Regions from separate parts of the Homo sapiens genome. Here region 2 is linked to region 1. The links come from fine-mapping of genetic effects on plasma protein levels. A gene starts in region 1. The other region holds a variant in brackets. All regions are shown on one strand. Distances are from middle to middle. Region 1 holds the start of C7 (complement C7). Region 2 overlaps C7 (complement C7).

The links. PIP is the posterior inclusion probability: the model's chance that the variant is causal. The UK Biobank Pharma Proteomics Project read protein levels with antibody pairs (Olink). The fine-mapping took linkage between variants from a reference panel, not from the people measured, so its PIPs are less certain.
Region 2: its variant is fine-mapped to the plasma level of the C7 protein (UK Biobank, PIP above 0.99).

What each region holds. Positions count from the first base shown.
Region 1 is chr5:40,907,542-40,910,527 of GRCh38, reverse strand. C7 (complement C7) reads right to left here and starts at 1,031. Exons shown (of 18, transcript NM_000587.4): 1 at 912-1,031. The coding sequence starts at 917.
Region 2 is chr5:40,971,048-40,973,547 of GRCh38, reverse strand. It overlaps C7 (complement C7), which reads right to left. Exons shown (of 18, transcript NM_000587.4): 15 at 954-1,145. Among named protein-coding and RNA genes, the nearest start is that of C7, 63 kb to the right of the region's middle. The variant T/C (reference allele first, on the strand shown) is at 1,439.

The DNA.
Region 1 (2,986 bases):
ATTTAATTTCACAGAAGGCATGGCTTAATCAAGATCCATATCTTGCTCCTCCTCTAACCCCAATAATGAGCGAGCTTGGATTCGGTGCCCCAATGGACAATACAGTGACTATGGAAGCAATCTAGCCACTGACAGATCTGTGAAATTATTCCTACAGTCTTACAATGCAACATTTTTAAAGTTTAAATACCAAAATTTACAATAATAAAATTTGAATAGCAATCTCAACTTATTTTTGCATTCCAGAGATTTAGTCTATGATAGCGATTTCTATCTTTGGTCTTATCTTTTGTTGAATAGCTTTTTGGTTGTGTTTTGTTTTGTTTTTTAATATTTGGCCTTTTTGCATTGGGCCAACATGTATACTTGGTAGACCTTTAGTTTTATTCCATCTACTCATATCTTCTATTCTCACAATGCTGACTCTTTCATCCAGGATTTCAAATTCTCAAGTTCCAAGCCTGCAAATTTGCTTTTCTATTAGCTCTTAGATAAATCGCAGGACCCTACTGCATGGCTCCTAATCCAAACAAGCAAAAAAAAAAAAAAAAAATACACCAGAGGAAAGTTTTTCCCAAGAAATAACAATAGTACTATTGTATTTCTTTATGACTTTATCGGGACTTTCATAAACATTGTCTCCAATTCCTGATTCCCAGACCTCTGGACCTATAATTTCACCACAAGATAAGAAAAAGGAATTCACTTTGGCTGAACTGTTAAATATGTTTAAATAAGGATTTCTAAACATCACCCCCAGGTCTTTTTCTTCTGTATTTTCCTCTGGCCTTCTATTTATTTGATGTCTTTCAGTTAGGTATTACACCTCTTCGTTTAAATTACATTTATATTACCCCCGTTCATTTGAAAAGATAGCTTCATTTACAAAAGTAATGAATTTATTGTCTTACCTTCATGTTTGGGAAAACATTCAGGGCAGAAGAGAGGAGGAAGATTTCCTCTGTAAGGGCCGGGTAAGTTTTCAACAGCAGGAAGAGCCCAGCAGGCTGCCTGCCTCTCTGCCTCTCCCTGCTCTAGATTATCTTGGCACTCATATATAGAGCAAGTGGTCCTGAGATTTAGCTCCTACCCCAACCGGATTCTCCAACGACAGCAAGAGCCTGACCTTGTACTTAATCTGTGCCTTGAAACCAGATGCATCTTATCAATTACACAGCCTTAGCTACAGCCAGCTGGGACTGTTTGGAAGTTATAGATATGTTTCTTAGAAACATATCTATAAATCAGGAAACACAGCAAATGTTCTCAGTTCAATGTTTAAGTGATTTTCAACCAAAGGAGACTCTGTAAGGCAAGGGATGAGCCTCCTTCTTGTTTCAATCTACTAAACTAAGTGGATGTTTTCATGATTCTCTTAAAAGGTGTTATATGCCAGACTTTGAGATTAAATATTTTATGAAAGAAAATATTTAAATGCAGTTCTGTCACTCAAAATCTAAATAGAATGTTCTGGAGTAGAATTTTTCCCCAAAGTACAGCCTAATACAACCCAATAGTCATCCCTTCATGCTTAACTTTCACAGAATAATCAGAAAGAATATCAATTTTTGTAAACATATTTGAGGACATCACTAATTTTCTCAAGAACTTCACTTAATCCTTTGATAATCAGATCACTGTGTTGGAAAGTTCTTCTCAGGGTCATTATCCACATCCATTTTCTCTCCTTTGCTTTTTATCTTGTCTTATTCTACCAGGTCTTTATTTTCCCATAGCTTTGCATTGATTCTAGCAAGTCCCCAACATCACCTTCATACATTTAATAAAATGCTGCTTATTTTGCAAGATTTTAGATTTCCTATTGAAACTGAGCTACAGTTGGCCAGGCGCGGTGGCTCATGCCTGTAATCCCAGCACTTTGGGAGGCCAAGGCGAGCGGACCAAGAGGTCAGGAGTTCGAGACCAGCCTGGACAATACAGTGAAACCCCGTCTCTACTAAAAACACAAAAAAATTAGCCAGGCATGGTAGCATGCACTTGTAGTCCCAGCTACTCAGGAGGCTGAGAGAGAAGAATCACTTGAACCCAGGAGGCGGAGGTTGCAGTGAGCTGAGATCGCACCACTGCACTCCAGCCTGGGAGACAGAGTGAGATTCCATCTCAAAAAAAAAAAAAAAAAAAAAATTGAGCTACAGTTTTATTTGTATTGTTGGACCAAATATTCTAACACTAGCTGCTAGTGCATTATGAGTGAGGTAGAATAAATGTTAAGCGGGAAAGAAAATTTGAGTTAAGAATAATTTTATAAGTAAACATTCCATTAGTGAAGATTTTCTAGCTTTAATGACTTTTTCTTCCTATATCCAAAGCACTGGAATAATAAAGACAACCCCTATCCTCCCCTCATAAATTAATGGTGGTTTCCAGAGACAAAGCTTCCGCATCTTTTGTTCAAAGCTTTAGTGATTTGTGTGGAAGAAATTTTGTCACAGAGACAAAGATCCTGACTCCTGAAAGAAATATTTTTTATTCAGCTCCAACTGCATAAATTCCAGATGCCATAGACTCATCTTAAATTCTCAATATACAATTCCATTTCAGCGGCTCTCTTAGTTTGGGTTCCCCCAGAAGTAGATTCAGAAACAAGAATTCAATTGCAAGTAGTTTGTTTTTGTTTTTGTTTTAAGAGATAATCTTAGAAAGCACCACTGGAAGTGGGAAAGTGAGATTGGGGAGAAAAGAAAGTCAATAAAGGGTGTTTTATCAAGCAAGAGACTCCAGTGGGCAATTTGAGTTCAGTTCTAATGAGGAACTCTGAAAGACATTGCACACGAACTCTGCAATTAAGAGTTAGTCCAGCCAGGTGTGGTGGTTCACACCTGTGATCCCAGCACTTTGGGAGGCTGAGGTGGGTGGATCACTTGAGGTCAGGAGTTCAAGACCAGCCTAGCCATGATGGTGAAGCCCCATCTCTACTAAAAATACAAAAAAAAAAAAAAGCCAGTTATGGTGGTTCATGCCTGTA
Region 2 (2,500 bases), 63 kb before region 1:
CACATCACAGCCCATATCTACCATCAGTATCTGAGTGCTCCATACCCTGTCGCATGGAGAACTTAGTTAGAAACATCTAATTCACCTCACACCATCACCTGTGAAATCTAGTACTTCATCCTCACTATTAAAAATAAATTTCAGCGTTTAATTAAAAATCACATACTAGAGAGATAATATCACATAAAATAGTATGCAAGTGAGTTTTTCTTCATTCTCATTTTTGTTACAAATACAATATTTTCCATTTATTTAAAAAATGTAAACAAAGAATAAATAAGGGGTTATTGTCAAACAAATCTATCTCATCTAAAATTACCTCTAAAAAGAAATAATTTGGCTTTCTAAATCCTTTCTACCTTAGGTTCTTAAAAGACCATTTTAATTTTCTTGGTGTTAAAATACTGGATTTTTGGGTTTCCACATTAAGAACAATTTCATGAATCACAACACTTTTCCTTCAATAATGTCTGCTTTAAAGTGTTAAATGAAAATGCTTTCTAAATTTTCAATTTCAGAAATACTGATAAACTCTTTGAAAGCCCAAAAATGAAACATACAGAACTTTAAATAAATTATGATCTCAACTCTGTACTTATGAAAAATGCAGGGGAAAAAAATCTAGAGGAAACAAACAAACAAACAAAAAACAGATTTTAAAAATCCTTTATTGTCTTGGCACCATAACAGATATAAAGCTAATCTTTCACAAGGATGATTTAAGTTAAAAGTTTCAGAATCACCAGGCTATCCTTGCCTTTCCTTGCTTTCATGAGTCTTTCTGTGCCATGTGAAGAAAATCTGTTACTCAGTCTACAAACTGACCCTATCTTAAGGAGCAAGAATGGAGGGAATGACTCACAGCTATGGTGATACAGTACCATGAAGGTCGCCACAAGGACTCTCACTTGCCTGGGTACAAGTGTCCTTGGATAGACATGGAAGCCACTCACCTTTTTGTACACAGCGGGCATTCTTCATCTCAGGACTCCACTTAAGGCTGGAGCCACAGAGAAATGCTGAAGGACCTTCTAAGGACATGCCACCTGAACAGGAAACAGTCACCTTCTCACCAACTGTGTAGAAAGGTTTTTGGGGGTGACTCTGTATGCCATCCATCAGTACAGGTAGAACACAGGCAATTTCTAAAGATAAAAGAGAGCAAAATATAAGGGTCGTTGCTCTCCTAAACCATCTTTTTAAAAAAGTCTTATGTGATGCAGACACACTTGTTCTGCTTTTTCATATTAGAGGACAAGGAGGAAGACGTAAGTTCACTGTTAGGGTGGACTGAAAGACATGTCACACAGAGCCTGGCACGTAATTGACCCATGAATATCTAAAAACCAAAACAGCTCCCCCTCTCCCACCCCTCCCCTCAAAACAATGTGACAACTTAAAATGAACAACCCCAATAGAGTCCTAATGCCCAGCCTAC[T/C]GTTGAAACCAAACTTTTCACAGCTGTCACTTATTTATGTGCTCTAGTGATGTTCCACCAGGAGAGTTTCATTAACTTTCATCCAGTTGGATATTTTGCCGTCTGAAATTATTAAAACACCACTTTTATTTATTTATTTATTTTTATTTTTTAGGGACAGGGTCTGTCTTGTTGCCCAGGCTGGAGAGCAGTGATTATTCATAGGTCTAATCAGTGTATACTACAGCCTCAAATTCCTGGGCTCAGAAAAGCAATGGGGAAAGGATTTCCTGTTTAATAAATGGTGATGGGAAAACCGGCAAGCCATATGCAGAAAACAGAAACTGGACCCCTTCCTTATACCTTATACAAAAATTAACTCAAGATGGATTAAAGACTTAAATGTAAAACCTAAAACCATAAAAACCCTAGAAGAAAACCTATGCAATACCATTCAGGACATAAGCATGGGCAAAGACTTCATGACTAAAACACCAAAAACAATTGCAACAAAAACCAAAATTGACAAATGGGATCTAATTAAACTAAAGAGCTTCTGCTCAGCAAAAGAAACTATCATCAGAGTAAACAGGCAACCTACAGAATGGGAGACAATGTTTGTAATCTATCTATCTGACAAAGGGCTAATATCCAGAATCTACAGGGAACTTAAACAAATTTACAACAGAAAAACAAGCAACCCCATCAAAAAGTGGGCAAAGGATATGAACAGACATTTCTCAAAAGAAGACATTTATGCAGCCAACAAACATATGAAAAAATGCTCATCATCACTGGTCACCAGAGAAATGCAAATCAAAACCACAATGAGATACCATCTCACGCCAGTTAGAATGGTGATCATTAAAAAGTCTGGAAAGAACAGATGCTGGTGGGGATGTGGAGAAATAGGAACGCTTTTACACTATTGGTAGGAGTGTAAACTAGTTCAATCATTGTGGAAGACGGTATGGCAATTCCTCAAGGATCTAGAACCAGAAATACCATTTGACCCAGCAATCCCGTTACTGGGTATATACCCAAAGGGTTATAAATCATTCTACTGTAAAGACACATGCACAC